Homo sapiens: one gene and its partner. The protein of the gene in region 1 purifies or fractionates together with the protein of each later gene. This does not show direct contact. Each region holds a gene or a part of one and is shown on either strand. Other genes may lie near its edges.

Region 1 (13,081 bases):
GGAGACTCTTTGAGCACCAAAAATCTAAGGGACAGAAAAGCCACTCGGCAGGTTGTTCATGGCAGAACCAAGCCCGGGGCCAGCCCTCCTGACTCAGATGGAGGGGCTCACTGTCCCCAGGGGTCGCTGCTCAGCACTGCCCTGTTTCCTATTACCAAGTGCCCTAAATTGTATGGTTTCTAAAAATTCTAACAGCATTCAACACTTGGATGCTGTTAATGCAATGATGTCATTTCACCCTTAAATCCCAAATACATATTTAGCATGCATAGCCCGGTGAGACTTCCACACAGCCTAGACAGTCTCTGTGAAAAATGAGGCAACCATCCAGTTGCTGCAAGCTTTGTTATTAATTAAAAATAATAAGAACGGTTCTGGACCTGAATCTCAGTAAACTGACGTTGCTTTGCTTTGGAAATGGCTGCCTCGGTGGGGACACCCTGGGATTCCCCCACCTCCTACAACACCTCGAGCCGTGCGATCCCGGGGGCCCTTCCTTACCCAGGAGCCAGGGCGCGCAGGAGCCCAGCAGGCCGCCCTCGGCGGAGTTGAGCACGGAGTCTGGCAGCGGGATGCAGTGGCGCACCATGGCCCCGTACAGCCCGTACTCGGCCATCACGCTGCTGCCGCCCCAGCGCTTCTCCCGCTTGCGCCATTTGGCCCTGCGGTTTTGAAACCAGACCTGGTTGGAGGCAGGAGAAGCAGAAGGCACACAGAAGAGACAGTGAAGAGGGGCGCCTGGAGGAGCGGAGGCGGCGTCCCAGGGCTCGGATCTTCTCTCCCGAGCATGATCCCATGCTATTTCTGAAGGAAATAGCTCCCGAGGGCCAACCAGCCGCCCTCAGGGAGAGCGCCCAGGAGCCCCCAGCAGCGCCCACGTGCGGTCCGGACTCACGGGCATTCAACGCAGTAGGGACACTTGTGACCACGTCCACTGAAGTTTCCATAGAGTCAGGAATGAAAAAAACTAAAGAATCAAACTCCCTTTTCCCACATTGTGTGAAGAGGTCAACTACAGTGTTTCCTGCTTTTTCTCATTAATTGGAATGAGCTCACTGGGGCACTGGCTCCTTCCGAGCTTAGGCTATTGGGTTGCTGGTGATATTTCTCATTAAAAACATTATGTTAATAAAGGACTATTATGAAATACGGTTTAGCTGTTAAAAAAAGAGTTAGTGACATATCTTCTGATAAAACCAAGAGGAAAATTCTATGTATGCATGTGAGTGTGTGTATATATGCATGTAGATATGTATATGCACATACATATTCAGGGGCAGATAATATACTCCACAAAGTAGAGAAAGGTCTCCTCAGGCATTTGTGTTGATTTCTTTCAGGGTTTGAGATGGAGAGGTAGTCTCTTTTTTTTTTTTTTCATTGACATATCTTTATAGTTTCTAGTTGCAGCACACATTATCATGTGATTTTAAAGAATGATTTGATACTAAATAATAATAAAATGAAAAAAGGCATGAGGGTCATAGGGGCAAGCTCTTGTGGTGCCTTCAGCTAAGGGACCCTCAGTTTCTATGCAAAGGGAGCGTGTTGGCTATAGAGAAGGGACTGCTGATTGGCTCACTGAATGTGGGAATGACACGTTCTCTGTGGTATCTTTGGAGCGGAGAAAAGGGACCCCAGACACCTGTATCCGGTCTTCGGGGAGCTCAGTTTTCACAGCCAGCATTTCTCGGGCATACACATCAGGGTAGTGGGCCTCGCTGAATGCCTTCTCCAACTCTTCCAGCTGGTGAGCAGTGAAAACTGTCCTGCAAGGACCCCAAAACACACAGGTGGGCACATGTCCCCTGGGGACAGCAGCCTCCCTGGCCTTAAGGACCACCGTGCCTGCTTCCTCTGCTGTCCAGACCCTAGAAGCCACTTCATGATAATGGAACACCCCACCTCTGAATGATTAGCTGATGTCCAGAAATTTGATTCAAACGAAAACAGTTCTTTAGCTCTTTCTTAATGAATTCCATCAGCTCATTCTGACAAAATCCATTTGACAGATCCACAAAATTGTCTTTAAAATGCTCCCAAAAAAATGCTAGCAAGATTGTAGCATTTTCCCAGCCTCCTAGGAACTGCAGAATTATCTTCCCAAATGGCTTCTGTGCCCTTCCCATTGCCAACCAGGAAACCACTGGGCCTGCTATCATGCCGGGCCATAAATTCTCAGATGCAGGTGCCATAAACCTTGGGCTGTGTCCCGAGGAAAGGCAGGCAGAGGGGACTGCCTGGCCCTATACCTGTGCCGCCGCTTCTTCCTCTTGCCCAAGGTGGGGGATGCCTTTAGGTCATTCCTGTCTTCAGACTGGCTGTCCTCATCTGATGGCACAGAAAGAAGAAGAGGACTTTAAGGGTGATCATATCCCCTCTATTTCCTGGATTTTAATGTGAGGATTGAAGTTATGAACCTCTTGGGTACTTAAGTAGTTTACAGTATGAGCCAGCATTTTTAGTGCCTACTAGATCCCAGGCTCTGTGCTTAACACTGTCCATACATTATCTCAAGTATTCTTAATATAATAATAAAACACCAAAATGGCTGCTGCTATTATTATCATCCTATTTTTACAGATGAGGAAACTGAGGCACCGAATGGTTAAGTAATTTGCCCAAAATCACACAGGTAGTAAATGGTGAAGTTGAGAATTCAAATCCCAGATTATCTGAAGCCAAAACTACTCAGCCACTGATTGCACTTTCTATCCCCACACTGCTTCCAAACACATCCACCCCTATGCCCCCAGCCTCATCATCTTAACCTCTACACCAACATTTCCCAAAGGAAGTCTGGGGCTTGTGACATCAGAACCCTCGTCAGAACTGCAACCCTTCCCTGATGCACCAAATCAGAATCTCTGGAGGTGGGATCTAGGAGGCTCATTCTTGACAAGTGTGCTCAGATGATGTGTAGTTGCCCTTGAAAATTTGAGAACCACTCCACTGTGCTTTACCTTTTTATATCCAATACATCAAAAAGTCTAGATGGAAAAGAAGGTTAGAAGGCCAAACTATTGTGAGATTCATTGCTAGAAGGCATAATTGCCTCAAAATATCTTTAAAATGAATAAAGGCAAAAATAACTAAATAATACTAGTTTTACTCATCCATCAATTAGTTCACCAGAAACCTGGCTTGGATTAAAACATTCTGTATTGGGCTGTCCAACCTGATGAGACATGAGACACATAAGGTTATTAAGCACATGAAATGTGGCCAGTAAGATCAAGACATGCTGTAAACATAAATCACTTAATGGAGTTAGAAGACTTAGTGCTCCTAAAAAGTAAAATATTTTTGTATTGATTATGTGTAAAATGATAATATTTGCTATCATTGTTGGGTTAAAATATAGTATTTAGATTCATTTCACTTTTAATGTGACTGTGAGAAATTTCCGTCAAACATGAAATCACATTTCATTTTTCTTGGACAGCTCTGCTCCAGACTTTCAGAAATGCTGGCAGAGTTGGATTTAGCTGCCTTTGGTTTTGTAAGAAAGAACCCATCCCATGAAAACAGTTTTGCATTTTTAGTGACACTAATAGGGAGTTTCATTTTATCTTACGTAGAGCTCATGAAATAAAGTCCTTTTAGAGTGGAGCAAAAACCTGCCTGCCTATTGATCTGACATGCTTCCTTTTAGTATCAGAAGACCCAGTCTACTCTTTTTGCCTTGGCTGCCTGGATGCTCAGCTCTAGATTCTACCACATACCATCCTTTCTTGTGTAATTCTTTCTTTTCTCTCCCACACCCAAAACCACTCGTTTCCTTAGCCCTTGTCCTTTATAGAATTTCATTGCTTCCTTCTCTTTCCCCGCGACCCGTCTGGATTTCTTTGGGGAAATGGGTAGGCCAGGAACACATCTCTAGGCGTAACTACAATGAATCCCCAAGGTTGCTTCTTTCTCCTGCACAGGGGACTGGGAGGACGCTGCGCCGGCAGAGGAGCGCGGTACCCGGGACTCCCTTTTCAGCACCCCAAGGGGCGGACAGTTCCAGGGCTCGAGGCCCCGTACTCTTCCAGGACCCGTCAATCATTCGATCATTTCCGCCCGCGTTTCCACCTGGTACCTTGTTCGGTGCTGCTGGTGACCACCACAGGCCCGGGCCTTCCCGACCCACGCAGCTGCCAGAGGCGGAGACTGGCGCCTGGCGCTGGGGGGAAAAATGGCCCTCTGGAGATGGTTGTTGAAGACCCCAGGGTCTCATCAAAAGGTTCCACCCGGAACCAGGTGGTGGCGGTCTCACATCGCTGAGGGAACAGGACCCCGGATGAGAGGCAGGGATTTAGGATGCAGCAAGGGGCAGGCGGCGCAGCTCCGCGAATGCCCCTCCCGCGACGGGGCCTCGCTCTGGGCTCCCCGCCTAGATCTGGGCCGCTGGGGCCAGGGGTGCGGTGGGGCGATGGTCTGTGACCCCTGCGCGGCTCAGAGCCTAGGGGACAGGGGCAGGAGCGGAAAGCGCGGGCCTGATTACCGGACGTGGAGACGCTGTCGCTGCGCTTCTGGCGGCCGAGCGCAGGCGGCGGACGGCTGGGAGCCAGCGGGGCAGCGGGCTCGGGGCCCCTGGGCGGCAGGAACGGCACGTCCGCTAGGAGCAGGCAGGGTGCTCGAGCGGCCGCCGGCGGCTGCGTGCCGAAGCCACAGAGGAGGCCGAGTCCCAGCGGTAGGGCCCCACGCGCCAGGCTGGAGCCGTCAAGCCCCGGGCCCGGGCACGGCGCGACTGCCGGACCCTCGCAGCCAGATCCCTGTCCTGGGCCAGCGGGCGCCGGCAGCTCGGCCTCCAAGCCCAGCAGGTCCGTGATGGCGAAGCCCCGGGGGCGCGAGCCCCTAGGGGAACCGCCAGGCACCAGCGCCCTGCTGCTAGTGCGCCCGTCGGAAAGCGAGTCCCGGCCGGTCATGGTTCCTTAGCAAGCAAGGCGCGAGCCTCTCTGGATCCCGTTTGCGGAGGGCCCAGCTTAGAGGAAGCTTTATAGGATTGGGCTGCCGGTCGGGCGCGGGAGGCCTGAAGGGCTCCAATCAGCTGGGCGCGGGCGCGTCGCCGTTCCGGACCCCGCGAGATGGGGACGCCACCAGTTCCCCTCCCCTCGGTTACCGCCCACCCAGCTGCAGTCCCCTCAGTCACCTCCTTCTCCTCCTCTCTTCTGTCCAGCCCACCCCACCCCACCCCACCCCCATTCTAGGAGGGAGGGGAGGAAAGAAGGTAAGGGACAGTGACTCCGCTGTCTGCCTGTCCCTCGAAAAGTCGCAAGTTCTACATCCTGGCGTGGCCTTCTCCTTCCTTCCAGACTCTCTGGGTGGAGGCCCCACTCCCAGCTGCCCTGAAGCTTCTTTGATGCGACCCAACTGCCTATTAAGACCTAGGACCCCATTCCCAACCACACCCCGATGGCTACCCCATATATGTCCCCAGCCAGCCCTCCACCTCCGCCGCCGGTGCCACGAAGGCCTTCCTGTAAGAAGGCCTTCTCTGAAAATCCCCAAGGGGAAAGGAATGAAAACCGTGTATTTAATCCATGGTCATCCTACCTCCATCCCTTTAATCCATGGTCATTCTACCTCCATCCAAATCCACCCCCAGGTCCATCCCCAACACTCCACGGGCTGAACTGTAGGGGGTGGCAGACTCACAAGAGCTGGGGAAAGGGAGAGAAGCAGAGAGAGGAGTGGACTGCCCGGGGCTGAGACGGGCAGGGTACCAGGTTTAACCAACAAAACACTGTCGGCTCAGTGAAATGTGATTTCAGATAAAAAAGGAGGGCTTTTTTTTTTTGTAGGAGTATGTATCAGTATTTTATCCAGCAACCCTAAATTGGGGAGGAGTGGAGGGAGGTAAATTGAAATAAAATAGAGTCTGTCTACTGGAAAGCACACCTTTTCATCGGGGCTTACAATTTATTGTCCAATTTCACGATTATTCAAAGAAAGCCTGATTCTTTGAATAATCAGTGAAACTCTGATATTCGCTAAAGTTGGCCCCAAGCACGTGGGTAAGTAACTACTGGTTCGCGCTTTGAACCCAACCAGCCCTCATCGCTCGGAGCCCTGCGTCCCCCGCTTCCCAATCCCAGAACCCCGGAAGCAGATCTCCTCAGTCCCACTCCCTGAGGGTCCTACAGTCCGAGGTCCCGCAGCGAGGGAGGAGCAAACGCCTGAGCTCCGCGGGAACCCGGCGCGGCTGCCTGCGCGCACGCAGGGACCGGAGCCCGAGCCTGGGCCCTGCAAAGTGGGTCTCCCACTCGCTGCGCGTTCGAGTGGGGCCTCCGCTAAACATGCAGATTAAACAAGGGGCTTCCGATAAGGATAATTACAGGAGGCTGCGCATTGACTTTCCGTTACTAAAGGAAGACCCAAATCTCCCCCTTGCAAGCTGTTCCCGGGATTACCAAAACAATCACTTTCTTTTGAGATCATTGTCTTTTGAACCACTCCAGCTCGGGGCAGAACGCTTTAGACGCTGGCGTTGTTTTCCGCTCCGCGAGGAATTTTCCCCCAGATTTATCTCTGGGTTTAGGGAAGGCGTTGGGCATTCGGGACTGCGTAGTCGTTTGTAAATCCGAATTTGGGGTAGCAGTTAAGTGAGATACCTACGCTTCCACACAGTTTGTAGCCCGAGACCAGTCAGGCAGGCAGGGTAGTCGATTCTAAGGTGGCCCGACCGGGGTCGCCCGCGAATGGAAAGCCTAAGGGGCGAGGGCGGACGCGGGCGCCGTGCCTGCAGCCCCGGGTGCCGACCAAGTGGCCTCACCTGGGACAGGTCTTGGGGTCTCCCTCCCCTAGGTCTCCCTGGAAGGTAGGCGATCACGGGAGTGACAGACCCCGAGTAGATAGCCAGTGATCCAAAGACACCAAAAGGCCAGGCGGTAGGAGCCCAGCCTCAGACACTCTCTATAGTGACCGCGGCGCCTCGGGAAGGATCGTCTTAAACTCATTTTGCAGGTGAGAGCAACTGGGACTTATTAACCCAGTCACATCGGACACAGAGACGTGGCGAGGGCGACACAGAGCAGGAGACTCAATCAAGGAGCCCGTATTGGAGCTCTAAGGGGACTCAGAGATGCAGAAGGAACGAACTTCTAAGGGGTCTTGCAATTCCTGGACTGGGGCGTTCCTAATGCATCCCGGGACCCCAATGCCAGGGAGGGGCCTGCAGGACCCCAGCGGTGGGCGAGTTGTGTCCTGGGTCACCTTGTGTTTCGCAGCGTGGCGGTGGCAGGAGCCCAGCGCGGGAGGACATTTTCATAGCCTCCTACAGTGAGAAACGCCCCCCACCCGACGCTGCGCTCATCTGTGTCCCCGCTGTTGCCGGGGCTCTGGTATCCACTTGCGCGCCCTATGTGGTGGGGATCCACCCAGAGCCCAGCGTCAAGTTATACGGGCGCTTCACTCAGCGTCAGCCAAGACCAGGGAAGCGCTTCTTGCCGTTTAGGAGACGTCTGCAAGAGATAAAAAGCTAGCCCACGATCCACCCACAATCCTCGTGTCCCCGGGGTGCCCTCGCAGTTGCCAAACCTACGGGCCGCGTTTAGGGGAAGCCTCCGCGTCCTGGCGGCCAAAAGAATGGGCTCCTTCCAGCTTCCCCCTACCGGATACCACCTGCAAATCTATTGCCAGAGGCGCAGCTCCCGCGAACGTTCCCGCCCCGGGCGGCCCCCAGGAGTCGTTTTGGGTCCCTAAATCCGTTGAGGGTTCCGAATCTGTCTTCATCAGCCAGGATTACCCGGGATTTAACTAATGAATAAAGGTTCCTCAGCTCATTATTTTCTAAGGAAGATTTCCAGCCCCTCTGTCGCCGACCGCGAATGTGCCTTGGCAGCGCCAGGCTGAGGTTGGACCTGCTGTGAGTGGCTCAGCAGGCACCCCTCTTGGGCTTCTCAGAGCCGCGGCTGGCCAGGCTGGCGCGATAAAGTGCTCAGACACAATGGGGTGGGATGCCCCGAGAAGGTGAAACGGATCGCCCTGTGAGTCTGCAGAAATGACCCCCCACGGCTCCGTTCTTCTGATTTTCCTCCCACCTCTGGCTGCTCCATCTCGGATGCTTTTGTGTCTTCAGTTAAAAGTCCGGGCACAGTGGCTCACGCCTGTAATCTCAGCACTTTGGGAGGGCGAGGCGGGCGGATCACAAGGTCAGGAGTTCAAGACCAGCCTGACCAAAATGGAGAAACCCTGTCTCTACTAAAAATACAAAATTAGCCGGGCATGGTGATGCATGCCTGTAACCCCAGCTACTAGGGAGGCTGAGACAGAAGAATCGTTTGAACCTAGAAGGCGGAGGTTGCGGTGAGCTGAGATAGAGCCATTGCACTCCAGCCTGGGCAACAAGAGTGAAACTCCGTCTCCAAAAAAAAAAAAAAAAAAAAAAGTTGTGGCAGAGGCTGTTTGGCCCCACCCACCTCCAGCCTGACCCCTCCAACTGCACGCCTGCCCAGCCTCCAGTGCCCGCCACATCTTTACCTGGGGACTTTTCTCGACCTTCAGAGCTCACTCTGCCCACTAGCTAAAGGTGCCAATAATTAACACGTGGAGAAATGCGACACCAAACACTGACGGGAATTGCAATGTAAGCACCCCCCGCTACACACACACAAACACACCCCTGCACAGAGTGACTCTTAGAGGTGCCTTCTACTCCGCCTCCCAGAGATCCAAGCAGGAGGAGCTTTAGTTACTTGCTGATGATTGCATTCCATATTGCCTCGTATCTAAATGCTGTTGTGCCTACCCAGACCCCCTTTCCAGAACTGTCGCACCTTCTTCCAGCTGTTGTGAGTGTGGGGCCCTCGAATAGGAAGAATTGCCCTTGGCTGACAAAAGCCCCTTAATCCAGAGCCCCCCACCCCCTGACAAACACACACACTGTGTCATCAACTGACAGAGGGATGATAGGAGGCCTCTCCTCTCGTTTCAAAGGACAGCTCTGCAGAGGCGTTTCTGCTACAAGACCCTCTCCCTTCATGGATCAGACCAAGTCAGCTCCTTGCTCAGCTTGTTCCCACCCCATCTTGGCCCCTCATTCCTGAGACCTTGTCTCAATATCTCTCAGGCGCCCAGACCCTGTCCCTGGCTCTGCTTCTAGCCACCTGAGCTCAGACACTTCCTGTCTCCATCTCGCTTTTACCTGGGTGTTCCTGGAATGCTCAGCTCAAAGTCTACAGAGCCCTTCTTTCTTCTCAGGTGGAACCCCACGGGGCAATCACCATCTCCCTGCCCAGATCTCTGGAATCTTCTCCAATCTGGACCCCACTCTTGAAGCCCAGGCTGTTGTCTCAATGTACTCCTGCATGTCTGAACCAGTCTCCCGGGGCACTGAAATGCAACACACCCAGAGCTGAACACAGCAGCCTCCCCTGCAGCCTGCACCTCCCCAGGTCTCCTCTTCCTCCACCCCGGGGCCCACACAGAATCGAGTGTCATCCTCAGGCCCTCACTCTCCCCACAGGCTCTCCTCCCACGACTGAAAGTGATGAAGATGGCCAACCTCTCTTGGCTTCTTACTGGGGGGCAGCTATTATTATAAACACCTTATCACAATGGCCACATTTCATCCTGACCACAGCTCTATGGGTAGATAATATTATTGTCCACATGCTTCAGATGAGGAAGTGAAAATTTCAAGTGATTAAATAATTGCATAAATTGCCCAAGGTCACTCACTATCCAGTGGCAAAGACAGGATTTGAATACAAGCAGTGTCAGCTCACGGCCTAACTCTGACTGTGGGTGTCTTGCTGCCCTGCATCTCTCTTCAAACCCTCTCAAAGTGGCATCTTCTTTCCTTTGCCTGCTCTGATTTGACTGTGTGCCCTGAAGTTCGTGTGTTGTGCCTTAATCGCCAATGCAACAGTGTTGAGAGGTGGAGGCTTTAGGGAGTGATTAGGTCAGGAGGGCTCTGCCCTGAGGAGTGGATCAATACCATTGTTGCAGGAGTGGGTTAGTTATTGTGGGAATGGGTTAGTTATCGTGAGAGTGGGTTAGTGACCATGGGAGTGGGCACATGAGTTTGGCCCCTTCCCGCCCCCTCTTCTGCTCTTCCTCTCTCACCATGTGACACCTTCCACCATGTGATGTGGCAGCAAGAAGGCCCTCACCTGATGTGGTCCCTTGACCTTGAACTTCTTCCCAGTCTCCAAACCATGAGCCAAATAAACCTGTATTGTTTATGAATTACGCAGTCTGTGGTATTCTGTTACCGCAGCACAGAACAGACCATGACACCACCCATTGCCACAACATGGCTCAGACCAATTGCTCACTTGCTGGAGTGGAATTTATTTTTTAGTCTAGGGCTACTCAGTATACAAATGAGTTTCAGAGTACCCTAAAGAGGTGGCTTCTAAAAAAAAAAAGAAAGAAAGAAAGAAAAAAAACAGCAGGTAAAGTCCTCCTTGTCCCACTCCTTGGCAGTTCTGTGACCTTGACCCAGGGACAAAAGGAGAGGGAGGGTTTTCTGCAGCAGCAATGGTGGGTGTCCCGTGGCTACCCTGCATGCTATGGCACACTCACTGCTGTGCCCTGTGGTGACTTGGCCTTGTTCCCAGGTGCCTGGGCTGCACATCCCTGCCCTTCCTCTCCAGCTGTCCATCAGTCTGGGGAGGGGGTGTATGGGGGAGAAACAATGCCATTCAGTAAGGCTATTTTCTGTGTAAATTGGCTGGGTGACATTTCTGTGGTTTGCATCCAATAACCCTGTCTAGGGTGTATGGCCAGGGCTCTGCCCTCTGGAATCTCCTTCTACCTCCTTCATGCCCCTCCCCATACCCCACCACTGCCATCTTTATTCCACAGCCACAGTGATCCTTGCCTGAGCACAGCCTATTGCTCCCTACTGCAGTTTCCTCAATGGCTTCCCCTTGCCACATGGGCAATGCTAACTCCTAACTCCTTCCTGCTAGTGACTGAAGAAGTGATGGTATCACATGCCCAGCTCATCAGTGAACAAGCAGGCTCTTGAGAGTCAGCAATGTGGTATATCCTATAAAACTGACCCAGGGTGCGGAGATCAGGGTTGTCCATCCTCTCATCAGCCCCATGAGAGCACCAGCCCCCGAGTTCCCTTTCTTGGCTGGATGTTCCGGTTACTATTTTAAGGTAACACATTATCCCAAAACTCAGCTACTTACAAACCATTTCATTTTGGTCACAGTTTTGTGGCTCAAAAATCTGGGGAGAGCTCAGCAGGCCATTATCACTTAGAGCCCTCCTGTGGTTGCTGTCTGGGGTGGCAGTCATCTGAGGGCTCAACGGGGCTGTGCTGGGTGCTCAAGGCAGCCCGCTCACATGGCCCAGGCTGATTGGCCTTGTGGGCTCTCGGGGAGTTGGGAGCATCCCACAAGAACCAGGCAGATGCTGCACAGCCTTTGCTGGCCCTTCCACAGAAGTCAGAGCATTACTTCCATCACGTTCAGTCAGCGAGGCCATAGCATGAGTTTTGGGGGAGTGGCACTTCTGCTTTCATGGGCCCCTTCTTCCATAAAAATATTTAAAGTTGTATTTTGTGCCTATGTTGGCATAAAGGTGAATATAATCCAGTCTAGATTCATTATTGTATATTCTTTATTATTGTACTCATTTTTCCTTCTGATTTTAAAATATATTCAATGGCATTAGAAGCATAGGCCCTGGGCATTGTACCCAAGGCATTAGTGTGCACTGGCCCTGCTGACTGGTTTAAGCAGCCACAAGCCACCAGATTCAAGGACAGGACACAGATTCAAGGTGGGACACAGGACCCACCACATCGCACTTGCAGGGCCAGGCGCCAAGCAGTGCTCAGCCACCCATCAACGCCCAGCCCAAATGGTTCCTCACCGCAGAGCCTCCCCAGGTTTTCCTGCCCCAGCTGGAACAAAATCACTGCTGCACTCTTGAAGCACTTGATGCTCCTTTGGTCTTATTTTCTTATTCTTAAGTTCTTTTGTGTCTGTTCTCATCTCCTACCTGGCTCCAGGAGCCCAGAACTGAGTCTTTTCATTAACACATCCCCTGGACAAATGTTCTTTACCTTCCAGGACAGTGACTTCCCTGGTGGCCTCTGGAAGAGGCCTCCTTACTATGTGCCAGTGGTTCTCAAAGTGTGGTTCCCAAAAGTGGTTCTGGCCACCTGGGCATTGGCCAGAAAAACAAACTCTTGGACCCCATCCAGACCTCCAACATCAGAGACCTTGGGGAGACCCATGATCTGTGTGTTCACAAGCCCCCCAGAGGACCCTGAGCCCCACTCAAGTTTGAGAACCACATCTTCTATTAATGCTTCATGAACCATATATCCTGACTGGTTTTACAAATATGTTGTGGGTGCAGAAACACCCAGTTATTCTCAAATGCTCTGAGGAGCTATGAGGAAAGCTTGAGTTCAGCACTAAGATAATAGTCAGCACCAGACATGAGCTTAGGGAATCAGGAAATTGAGGTTCTAAAAGGAGAAGGAAAAAAGAAAAGAGAAAATTTTATTTTAAAATGTTACATATCAAAAAATACATTAGTGGGAAAACTCACAGCCACCATCGGTGGGGCCCTTGGTCTGCGCCAGGCACTGCAGAGCTTCTCACGAACCCATTCACTTACCACTTGTGACAGCTCTGATGAGGGAGGTCCTGTATCGTCCCCATTCTGTGGGTGAGAAAACGGAGGCCCAGAGCTGGGACCAGCCCAACAGCCAGGGGAGCGGTCAGGACCCAAATCCTGACGGTCAGGCTAGAAGCAGCGAAATCTCCACGGGGCCTGGTCTGTGGCTTAACCTTGGTTTTGTTCTTCATGTTGCAGCGCTTGGGATCTGGCGAGGTCTGACTCTTACACTGTTCCAACTGCTGTAGACGGATGGCATTATGGGCTTGAGGCAGATTTCCCAGAGGCTCACATGCCCCATGGCCGGTCTTTTCCCTTTAGGTCCTGAGACAATAGGAAAATCCTGGGTAGGAATCCAGGTAACACTTTGATTCCAAAGAACATACTTCTCTTCCTCCTTTTCCAGCCTCTTCACTGTCTCTCTCCTCTCCTCTCTTCTCTTCCTTAGCTTCTTCTGGTTAAGTTCCATCTGTAAGACAAAGGAACCCAGAGCCAAGTTAAGCTT
Region 2 (12,195 bases), on another chromosome or scaffold:
AGTCCAAGACCAGCCTGGGCAACATGGTGAAACCCTGTCTCTATAAAAAAATACAGAAATTAGCCGGGCATGGTGCCTATAGTCCCAGATACTCAGGAGGCTGAAGTGGGAAGACCCCTTGATCCCAGGAAGCGGAGGTTGCAGTGAGTTGAGATCGTGCCAGTGCACTCCAGCCTGGGCAACAGAGCGAGACCGACCCTGTGTCCAAAAACAAAAAAAGTAAAAATTAGCCAGGTGGGTGTGGGTGGTAGCATGCTCCTATAGACTCAGCTACTTGGAAGGCTGAGGCAGGAGGATTATTTGGGCCCAGAAGGTTGAGGCTGCAGTGAGCCATGATTGTGTCACTGCACTCCAGCCTAGGTGACAAAGTGAAATCTTGTTTCATTAAAAAAAAAAAGAAAAAGGAAAAGAAAAGAGTACCCATGTCATATCTCTTCTATAAAATATTTCCTGGCCCAGCATGGTGGTTCATGCCTATAATCCCAACATTTTGGGAGGCCAAGGAAGGAAGATCGTTTGAACCCAGGCAAGACCAACCCAGACAACACAGCAAGACCTCGTCTCTACCAAAAAAAAAATTAGCCAGGCGTGGTGGTGCACACCTGTAGTCCCAGCTACATGGGAGGCTAAGGTGGGAGGATGGCTTCAGCCCAGGAGTTCAAGGCTGCAGTGAGCTATGATTGAGCCACTGCACTCCAGCCTGGGCTACAAAGTGAGACCCTGTCTCAAAAAAACAAAAACAAAAACAAAAACAAAAAAACACCTCCTAATTACTTTTTAGCCTACTATTTCCCACTCTCAGGAATCACATCAGTATCAGTCATAGTTCGTTTTTTGACAGAAAAGCTCGTGTAAGAGGCCTAGGCACAGGCCTTGGGTTTAACATCAGGCTCTACTGTAGCCCTTCATTATCCGTGGACACACTACAATCTCTCCAATGACAAAAAAAAAAAAAAAAAAAAAAAAATTCCCCAATGGATGGTTTTGAAGAGAAAATAAAAAGGCTATAAACTTTAAAGAGTTATGCATTTATCCTCTCACCAACTGTACACAGCACCTATTAATAGGCAATGTTCAGTTCTGAATGCCTTTTAGCAGCTGCCTTATCATTGCTGGTTTACTTATCTGTCTCACCACTAGACTGTAGGCACTTTGGGCCAGGGACTATGTCTTATTTATCTTTGGATCCACAGGTCCAATAAATGTTAGTTGAATGAATAAGCCCTTGATTATTCCATTGGACTGTGAACTCTTTGACAGCAGAGATTCTTAACAATATAGAGCAGGCACTCAGTAAGTCCTCTTAGAATGAGTGTGTGAATATCATGTCCGTCCTTGGTTAGATGATACTCTTAAGGTCAGGGCCCATACCTCATACTTCTTTGATTTCCCAAAGTCTGGCATACTGCTTTTCACACAAAAACTACTCAAATATTTATTAAATGAAATATTAAGGCAAGACAGAGCTCTAAAGCAGAGATCCAAGTAAGTAAAGAGAATGAGCACCTGTACAAGTTTTACTGTAGCAGAACAAAAAAGGGTAGTAAAAGGGTAAGCTGGCTGTGAGTCAACTAAAGAAAAAAACAGCTTCATGGCAGAGCAATAATCTACAATGCGGTAACTAAGATGTTAAAATATTCCCTCTTACTGAATTATTCTTACTTTTTTTTGAGATGGTCTCATTCTGTCGCTGAGGCTGGAGTGCAGTGGCTCAATCACAGTGCAGCCTCGACCTCCCCACCCTGGGCTCAAGCAATCCTCTTACCTCGGCCCCGAGTAGCTGGGACTACAGGCGCACACCACCACACTCAGCTAATTTTTAATTTTTGTAGAGATGGGGTCTCACTATGTTGTCCAGGCTTGTTTCCAACTCCTAGCCTCAAGAAATCCTCCCACCTCAGCCTCCCAACGTGCTAGGATTACAGGCGTGATGTAATCCTATGCCAGGCCTGATTCTTACTTTGTAAATATAAAATCCTTATAAATTCCTTCCTCATGAATGATTCTTGCTTCTTTCTTATAAAACCTATATATTTAAGCTATTTTCCTATTGATACAAAGCAAGATAAGCTGTAACACAAACTGATTTGGCATGTTTTTAGAATAATATATCTACTTTTTAAAAATCTACTACAAAATAGAATCGACGTCTGGGTGCGGTGGCTCATGCCTGTAATCCCAGCACTTTGGGAGGCCAAGGCGGGTGGATCACGAGGTGAGGAGTTAAGAGACCAGCCTGGCCAATACAGTGAAACCCCATCTCTACTAAAAAATACAAAAATTAGCCGGGCGTGGTGGCATGTGCCTGCAGTCCCAGCCACTCTGGAGTCTGAGGCAGAGAACTGCTTGAACCCAGGAGGCAGAGGTTGCAGTGTGCTGAGATCGAGCCACTGCACTCCAGCCTGGGCGACAGAGTGAGACTCCGTCTCAAATAAATAAATAAATAAAATAGAATTGATGACACAAAATATTTCTCAATTTACAAATTACCAACTGGCAGAGAAGCTGAAAAGTTGAGAAAAATGCTAAAAGAGCAGTGGACATCTTACGCTCAATCAGAAATAAAAATAAAGCATTTCTGAAATTAGAAATACAAGGCAACAAATTTAAAAATTTATAAAAAATATGATCTGCACACAACATTTTAGGGCAAATTATCTATTTGAAACCCAATGCAATATTCTTCTACTAGGCAGAGAAATACTTTTCCACTTCACCTTTACTCCTTAATTCCACTTGATACTTACATTGCTATGCCACATGCAGAGCACATATCCTCTACTTTGTATTATAATGATAAATACAAAATCAGCCGGGAACAATGGCTCACATCTGTAATCCCAGCACTTTGGGAGCACAAGGCAAAAGCATCACTTGAGCCCAGGAGTTCAAGGTCAGACTAGGCAACACAGCAAGACCCAGTCTCTACAAAAGAAAAAAATGTATTTATGTATGTATTTTTTGTTTGTTTGTTTTGTTTTGAGAGAGTCTCACTCTGTCGCCCAGGCTGGAGTGCAGTGGCACGATCTCAGCTCACTGCAAGCGCCACCTCCCGGGTTCAAGTATTCTCCTGCCTCAGCCTTCCGAGTAGCTGCGACTACAGGCACCCGCCACCACACCCAGCTAAATTTTTTTGTATTTTTAGTAGAGAGGGGGTGTCGCTGTGTTAGCCAGGACGGTCTCAAACTCCTGACCTCGTGATCCGCCCGCCTCGGCCTCCCAAAGTGCAGGGATTACAAGCGTGAGCCACCGCGCCTGGCCTACAAAAAATTTTTTAAAAATTATCCAGGCACAGTGGCACATGCCTGTAGTCCCAATTACTCAGGAGGCTGAGGCGGGAGGATCACTTGAGCCCAGGAGGTTGAAGCTGCAGTGAGCTATGATTGTGCCACTGCCCTCCAGCCTAGGTGACACAGTGAGACCCTGTTCCAAACACACACACACACACACACACACACACACACACACACAAAGCCAAACTCTTTAAAGACAGGAGTGTTAAATACACTTCACATCCGCCACAATAGACAGCAGTGCCTTGTATATACCAGTCATCAATAAATGCTTGATGAATGAGGATTATGATTTTTTTTTTTTTTTGAGACAGAGTCTCAGCTCTGTCACCCAGGCTGGAGTCCAGTGGCACAATTTCCGCTCACTGCAGCCTCAACCTCCCAGGCTCCAGCAATTCTCCCACCTAAGCCACCTGAATAGCTGGGGCCACAGGCGTGCACCACCACACCTGGCTAATTTTTTCTTGTAGAGATGAGCTCTCACTATGTTGCCCTGGCTGGTCTCAAACTCCTGGGGCTCAACCAATCCTCCTGCCTCGGTCTCCTAAAATACTGGGATTAAGGGCAAGAGCCAAGGTAACTTGTCACTGATGCTGTCAATTTCAAGTGTCCTGAAAATTAAAACTGAAGTCTACCAATTAGAAATGTCTACCAATTAAGGTTACTTCTATTTTTAAGGTCTTCTCCTGAATAACCAAACAAGATCACATTTCATATTACTGCACAAACTAACCTCACTGAGAAACAAACAGAATTATTCTCTGAGATACTAAATTCCAGACGACAAAAATCTTCCTATTTTTAAAACAAGGTTCTTGGCCAGGCGTAGTAGCCCACGCCTGTAATCCCAGCACTTTGGGAGGCCCAGGCAGGTGGATCACCTGAGGTCAGGAGTTCAAGGCCAGCCTGGCCAACATGGGGAAACCCCGTCTCTACTAAAAAGACAAAAATTAGCTGGGTGTGGTGGCAGGTGCCTGTAATCCCAGTTACTCGGGAGGCTGAGGCCTGCGAATGGCTTGAACCCGGGAGGCAGAGGTTGCAGTGAACCAAGATCATGCCATTGCACTCCAGCCTGGGGAATAGAGTGAGACTCTGTCTCCAAAACTAAAACTAAAACTAAAATAAAATAAAACAAGGTTCTTTAGCCATACAGCCAAACCACTCAGTGACAAAATCCACCATGTTTTGATGCTTGCTCAAGCTCAAGTTTGCCATCAAAGCACTTTACCCTTAAGTCACTATATTAAGTCAATGATAATAAATATCGTATAAGTGACACATTTCTTGAGGGCAGAGACTCTGACTACACCCAGCATCTAAAACAGTACCTCATATCTGGTAGGCATACTCCATGAATATTTGCTGAAAGAATGGCATTCATGACTATCTCACGGACTTCCATGACATATTCCAGGTGCTTCTCACCATTGCTCATATCTACCCATGAAGTCCTCCTTTTTTGGGAAGGTCTCGCTTTGTTGCCCAGGCTGGAGTGCACTGGCACGATCTTGGCTCACTGCAACCTCCACCTCCTGGGTTCAAGTGATTCTCCTGCCTCCTGAGTAGCTGGGATTACAGGCATGCGCCACCATACTTGGCTAATTTTTGTATTTTTAGTAGAGATGTGGTTTCCCCGTGTTGGCCAGGCTGGTCTTGAACTCCTAACCCCAGATGATCCACCCGCCTCAGCCTCCCAAAGTGCTGGGATTACAAGCCACCCATGCAATCTTTCAATATCTCATGACCACCCTCCTCTTCAAAGCCAAGAGAACCCAGGTATAGTATGAAAGTATCTCCTGCTTTAAATGATACATTAAGATGCTTTCCCCTCAGTATGCAAAATTCTAAAGTCAAATAAATCATCAATATTTCAGAAGTCAGCAAATAGCCCTTAATGGAAAAGAAACACAAGTTTCCAGTCATTCAGCAACCCTCTGTGACCTACTAAATTAAGTACAAGATTTCTCAAAGTAAATCTAATACAAAAAGTTACAGACTTCTAAACCTCTTTCTAAATTATAAAAGGGGAGCCAGGGAGGTGTGAAAAATTACAAAAGGGGAGAATGGTGTGAACATGACCCTCTCTGAAGCAGTAAAATATCTAAAACAAGTCTGTGGGGGGGAAATTTTTTTTAAAGGCATCTAGTTCACCCTCCCACACAAAGCAGGAATTCCTCCAATGTCACCAACAGGTGGTCCTGCAGTTTTTGACAAAGAGACAGAACATTTCCCATATGAGCATTCCCATAACAGAACGCTCATTCTCTCTCAAGTCAACCCATTACCTTCTTCTTTAATCAGGATCTAAAAATACTTTAGCTTTTATCAACTGACTCTTCTTCTGGCCCCAACTTCATCTCAGCATCATGAACATAAAGCTCTTCTAGCCGGGCATGGTGATTCACACCTGTAATCCCAGCACTTTGAGAGGCCGAGACGGGTGGATCACAAGGTCAGGAGTTCAAGACCAGCCTGGCCAAGATGCTGAAACCCTGTCTCTACTAAATATACAAAAATTAGCTGGGCATGGTGGCAAGTGCCTGTAATCCCAGCTACTTCGGAGGCTGAGGCAGGAGAATCGCTTAAAACCCGGGTGCCAGAGGTCACAGTGAGCCAAGATCAAGCCACTGCACTCCAGCCTGGGCGACAGAGCAAGACTTCGTCTCAAAAACAAACAAACAAACAAACAAACAAAAAAACTCTTCCAGCATAAATACCTAGAAATCACAATGTTTTCAGCTTGCTTTCCCAAACACCCCACCCCTCTCAATTCCAAATCAAGTAGGCAATGAATCAAAGAGATGAAGATACCTCCCCAATAGAATGATGAATCCATTTCCATTTAAAAAAAAAAAAAACAACTGAGTACAGAATCATATAAGCTTTAGAGATGGAAAAACCTTAGAATCCTCTAAATCTACTTCCTACCTCCTGTAGTTACCACTTCAGTAACTTCTCTGGGCAGTACATTTGTGACCTGGAATCTTAAGATGTGGGAAGGTAGGAAGGTTCTTTGGCTTGAATGTTAAGTAATTCTGAGTATAGTTTTTGTTTATTATTGATTGTTTTGTTTTTTTGAAACAGGCTCTCACTCTCTTGCCCGGGCTGGAGTGCAGTGGCACGATTACAGCTCACTGCAGCCTCAACCTCCCCAGTTCAAGTGACCCTTCTACCTCAGCCTTCCAAGTAGGTGGGACTAGAGGCACATGACACCACGCCCACCCTTGTAGAGACAGGGTTTCACTATGTTGTCCAGGCTGGTCTCGAACCCACACGAGGTTTCACTGTGTTGCCCAGGCTGGACCCCTGCAATCCTCCCGCCTTGGCCTCCCAAAAGTGTTAGGATTATAGGTATGAGCCACCACTCCTGGCCTGAGAACAGTTTTTAAAAGTTGTACATGGATCTTGTAGGTGACATGGTTTGACAGAAGTAGATCAAAAGTAATCTGTGTCATTTGTTTACTATTACTTCATTGTCTCTTACACGATTTCCCTATTTTAAGAAGGTTAAATTTTTTACCTACTAGCAATATTTTTAAATGTCTTTTAAAAGATATGAGCTATTAAAAAATACCCAAGTTACTTTTGGGCCCAAAACTGAATAGGTTTTTCATCTTCTAAAGATCTCTTTCAAGTTTGGTATAGACAGACATGGCTTTACTCAGTCATTCACTCAACAAGTACACAGCAAGGGCCTAACTCTAAACTGGACACTGCACTGTGCATTGAGAAGATGGAGAGCAGGAAAGATAATGTCCCTATTCTAAGGGAGCTTTGTTTTATAGAAGGCACAGTTGGATCATCACACAGAATTACAAATTCAGAAAAGTGCTAGGAAGGCAAAGCACAAGATGCTCTAAGAACATAGAGCCTGTAATCCCAGTGCTTTGGGAGGCTGAGGCAGGTGAATCACTTGAGGCCAGGAGTTCAAGACCAGCCTGGCCAACATGGCAAAACCCCGTCTCTATTAAAATACAAAAATGAGCTGGGCATGGTGGCACATGCCTGTAATCCCAGCTACTCGGGAGTAGCCCAAGAATCACTTGGGCCCGGGCGGCAGAGGTTGCAGTGAGCCAAGATCACATCACTGCACTCCAGCCTGGGCAACAGAGCAAGATTCTGTCTCAAAAACAAAAAAAAAAACAAAACAAAAAAACATGTAATAGGGTAAAACTGATACACCATGGGGATTCAAAGAAAAATTTCCTGAGGAAGTGATGGTTAAGCTGAGATCTGAATGGAGGCCATTCATATTTATGTAAAAACAGATGTCCATAAAATGAGAGGATTGGTCCAATAAGCCCAGCTACCTTACCTTTGGCATCTTTTATCCTACATCCTAAAACAATCTTTTTTTTTTTTTTTTGAGACAGAGTCTAGCTCTGTCGCCCAGGCTGGAGTGCGGTGGTATGATCTTGGCTCACTGCAACCTCCGACTCCAGGGTTCAAGTGATTCTCCTGCCTCGGCCTCCCGAGTAGCTGGGACTATAGGCAAGCACCACCACGCCCAGCTAATTTTGTATTTTTAGTAGAGATGGGGTTTTACCATGTTGGCCAGGCTGGTCTCAAACTCCTGACCTCAGGTCATCTACCTGCCTCGGCCTCCCAAAGCGCTGAGATTACAGGTGTGAGCCATGGCGCATAGCCCCACTCCCCTTTTTTGTTGTTTTAAAGAAAGGGTCTCATTCTGTTGCCCAGGTTGGGGTACAGTGGCACAATCATAGCTCACTGTAACCTTAACTCTTCGGCTCAAGAGCCCTCCTCGCTTCCCAAGTAGCTGTGACTACAGGCACATACCACCATGGCCAGCTAATTTTTTTTTTATTATTTTTTTGTGGACACAGGGTATTGATATATTATCCAGGCTGGTCTCAAACTCCTGGGCTCAAGCGATCCTCCCACCTCAGTCTCCCAAAGTGCTGGGATTACAGGTATGAGCCACTGCACCCGACCACAATCTCTTTTTTTAAAAAAGGAGAACAAAGTATGTAATAAAGATGTTTACGGCCGGGCGCAGTGGCTCACGCCTGTAATCCCAGCACTTTGGAAGGCCGAGGAGGGTGGATCACGAGGTCAGGAGTTCGAGACCAGCCTGGCCAATATGATGAAACCCCATCTCTACCAAAAATACAAAAATTAGCTGGGCGTGGTGGTACGCACCTGTAGTCCCAGCTGCTCGGGAGGCTGAGGGAGGAGAATCGCTTGAACCTAGGAGGCAGAGGTTGCAGTGAGCCGAGATTGTGCCACTGCACTCCACCCTGGGTGACAGAGCTAGACTTTGTCTCAAAAAAAAAAAAAAGATGTTTAAAAGCTAGTAGTTGAAAGTCTTTTGGGGAGAGGGACAGGGTCTTATTTAGCTCTGAATACCTCACATCACCTTGCCTGGTATTATTACTATCACAGTAGTCACTCAAATCTGGTAAAATGATTAGTGTCAGTATTAAATCAATGTTAATACTGTCTTTAAATAAATTTGCAAAACTACATCTCCTCACACAAGAAACCCCACTCTAAACTTCCTCGATTGTGAAAAGATGTTTTAATCTACCTCAAGAATTTAATAAAATAATATATGGCAAAATGCCGGGGTAGATTCTGAAGTGCTCGGAGTATATAATATCCCTGTGATCAAAAAGGTGGATCAGTCTCTTCTAAGCTGGTTTAGACTCAGCTGTGCTTCATTTTCCTTACTATGAGAAAAAATTCTAACAGGTTTGCATCCCCTCTCTGGCCTTGGTTCGCTCTGAGGAGGGTGAAATAACAAACTCTAAAGTTCCTTCTAGCTCCAGACACTGACCTGTAAACCTTTTAAAAGGATCAAGATTGCACTCCTCAGCATGAACGTTAGACTACTTCCTCACCTACTCCATTTCCCCAGGACCCCATGTTTCCTCTCAGGAATGGTAGCACGTAATTAATGAGTTAAGTTCTTTAAAAGACCTATTTTCTACTCATTTTACACACAGACTTAAGTTGAATTTACTCATCTAAATTAGATCTTCTGAATAATCCAAATAATTATTGTAAAATTTTACACGCCTCAAAGGACCAAAAAAAAAAAAAAAAAAAAAAAGTCAAAACAGCCAACTGTGCGCTGGGCATGGTGGGTCACACCTATAATCTCAGCACTTTAGCAGGCTGAGGTGGGAGGATCGCTTGAGGCCAGGAGTTCAAGACCAGCCTGGGCAACACGGCAAGACCTCCATCTCTAAAAAACATTTTTTTTTTTAATTAGCCAGGGTGGTGCACACCTGTAGTTCCAGCCACTAGGAAGGCTGAAGTGGGAAGATCATTTGAGCCCAGGAGTTTGAGGCTGTAGTGAACGATGAGCACGCCACCGCACTCCAGCCTAGGCAACAGGATGAGATCCTGTCTCTAAAAACAAAAACAAAAACATGTTTAATAGCCAACTGTCAAAAATATGTTTGTAACTACTAACTCTAAAAAGTAAATTTTGGTTTTCCAATTAAGGAAAATGTATTTCCTATATTTTAAATCAGAAAATAGTCATAAAAAGTCACTTATACTCAGAAATAACAACAAATAAATGCCAACTCATTCATGGAAAAAAATGTTTAAGTTACAATTAAAAGAGAGTAGAAACATCTGCAACACAATGCAAATGTATCTACAAGATACTACCACATGAAAATGAAATTTTACCCAAAAAGCGTTAAAACACTCAAATTATGCAGGTAAGGGCAATTTACGTATTTCACATTTATCTTGTTTAAAATAATTTTTTGGTGTGGTTTTAAAAACCTTGCCTCCTTTTACCCTTCAGGGAATAGCGTCCCACTAAAAGAGAACACTATTGTAATGATACTTCCAGGCAAGAAACCTGTCTTTATGATGTAAAACAGGGCTACCAGATCCAGATAAGGTCTGCCATTAGGATGCTTCAGAAGTCATAACATTTCAAAGAAAAAAAAATTTTTAAGTAATTCCTACATTAATAATTGCTAGTTAGTGAATTTAGTTTTTAAGCACATCGTATTTTTATATAAATATAAATTTTTATAACTTAAAATTCTAAACTTAATTTCCTGAGACAAAATTGGTCCTTTCACTCTGATTATCAATGTCAAGACAGCAGCTTCTTATTTGACAGTCAGTATTTAACTATATTTTACATCTACTGAGTGTTTCAGGGCCTTAAAGTTCATTATGATTATTATATTATTAATTACAACGTGCACTGTAACATTCCCTTTTTAAAGAGGTGCAAATAGAAGTTAAATAACTTATCCAAGGTCACCCAAACAAGTCAGTGACAAAGTTGGGAGTAGGAGTAAAACTTCAGCCCCTAGACTGAAGACTACTTCGAGCTTTTGCAATTCCAAACGAGGAAAAAAAAAAGGTCAAGCGATTTACCCTTAATAACTTCCAACAGCATACCCTAAATACAGTGGTACACTTATTATCATAAAGACTAAGAAAAAAAGATTCACCCTGAATCAAAGAAACAACTTTGCTACATTTAGATACCACTGTCATTTCCCTAGCTCTTGTAACAAGCGAAAATCCTGTACTGGATCTGGCTATATTAAATCCTGAAGAATGTTCACTCTTCAATATGAACAATTTATTTTCATGCTAACATGCATTTACGACTTAATCTTTTATCACCTTGTCCTATTTGGAGGTGCTGTGGGATGCATTAATTTCCTCACTCTTCCATGACATCAAGTCAAAGACTACAATCTCAAAAATAAGCAATTCTCAGTGAAAACATAGTTACATAGCCAATGAAAGAAAAACTCTAATAAATGGCTGCTTTTAAAGAGATACTTTTAAAGGATGCTTACATGTTTCACAGAATTACCGGTAACTCGCCCGCCAAGAAGGATGGTCCCTTTAAAGCAGCTTTTAAAGCATATCACTCCCTGTTTGGGACACAGTCTGACTTGTTGGACAAGATTAATCTGGGCACTCTCACACAACCCCTCTGAACCAGCTTAGTTCACTGGAAACATCATTTCAACTGTAGTACTCAGCCCTTCGCATACTACAAGGGACAAGATGACTCTCCTTAACAATCTTTCAGAAGGTCCCCACGGCGGAGACAGTGACAGCCGTCCTCCCGCGGATGTTTTTGGAAATAGAAATGTTAACACCAGGAGAGGCTCCTAGGAAGTGTCAGTGCGGCAGCAGGTGGAGTAGCCCTGCGTGCCGAGCAGGTTCTTTCTGACCTAGTCTCAATGCTCCGCTTCCCGGCCCCGGTTCCGCCTTACAGAGATCTTGTTAAGCCGTCTTGCGTCCCTGTTCTCTAACCCAGGGCGAGACTTCCAACCCTCCAGGGAGGCGAGGCAATCGAAGCAGACAAGACGGCCACCTCACCTCTTCCGGGGACTCGCAGGCCCGCTCCCTGGCCATGTCAGAGCCTGATGGACCAGGCTGGAGGGGACGCAGCCGGCTCCCCCGGGAGCCTCCCAGCCAGAACCCCCGCGCCCCACGGTCCCTTTCCACTGCCCCCACCCCTTCGAAACGCCACCGCCACCACCCTCCTTACTCCTGAATCCCCTCTCCTCAGGAGTACCCCAGTGGAGTTACCGGCCCACTCAAAAGTAAGAGCGACGGCCACCCCTCTCGGTCACCCTGGCCCCACTGTCACCGCCCTGCTCCCGGCCTCTGCCTACGCCGCTGGCTGGCTCCGGTGACGCCCGGGTCGGTACCTTGCGGACCCCCTTGTAGATATAGAAGTACAGCTCCCGGCCCACATTGAAGCAGAGGCGGTCGCCGTTGCCAGACTGGTCGTTGAGGTTTACGAAGGAGACGCGGACAGGGTTGGATCCCTGCGAGTTGAAGGGCACCCGGTTGGGCCGGCTGTACTCCGAGTGCGGCAGCAGCTTGTACAGACCTTCCCGGGTGGTGAATTGGGTCTTAATCTCGTTCATCTCCT

What was found.
Region 2: the proteins of VSX1 (region 1) and WDR20 purify together in Homo sapiens (affinity purification with mass spectrometry; 3 studies listed by BioGRID and IntAct, with this or other methods). This does not show direct contact.

What each region holds. Positions count from the first base shown.
Region 1 is NC_000020.11:25,077,184-25,090,264, forward strand, and holds the start of VSX1 (visual system homeobox 1), read right to left. Parts: upstream 4,959-13,081; 5' UTR 4,914-4,958; coding exon 4,490-4,913; intron 4,149-4,489; exon of another isoform or gene 4,085-4,148; intron 2,332-4,084; coding exon 2,253-2,331; intron 1,770-2,252; coding exon 1,646-1,769; coding exon of another isoform or gene 1,553-1,645; exon of another isoform or gene 1,360-1,552; intron 935-1,359; exon of another isoform or gene 683-934; coding exon 502-682; intron 1-501. UniProt on the Homo sapiens protein: Binds to the 37-bp core of the locus control region (LCR) of the red/green visual pigment gene cluster. May regulate the activity of the LCR and the cone opsin genes at earlier stages of development. Dispensable in early retinal development.
Region 2 is NC_000014.9:102,139,946-102,152,140, reverse strand, and holds part of WDR20 (WD repeat-containing protein 20), read right to left. Parts: coding exon 11,969-12,195; coding exon of another isoform or gene 11,933-11,968; intron 1-11,932. UniProt on the Homo sapiens protein: Regulator of deubiquitinating complexes. Activates deubiquitinating activity of complexes containing USP12. Anchors at the base of the ubiquitin-contacting loop of USP12 and remotely modulates the catalytic center of the enzyme.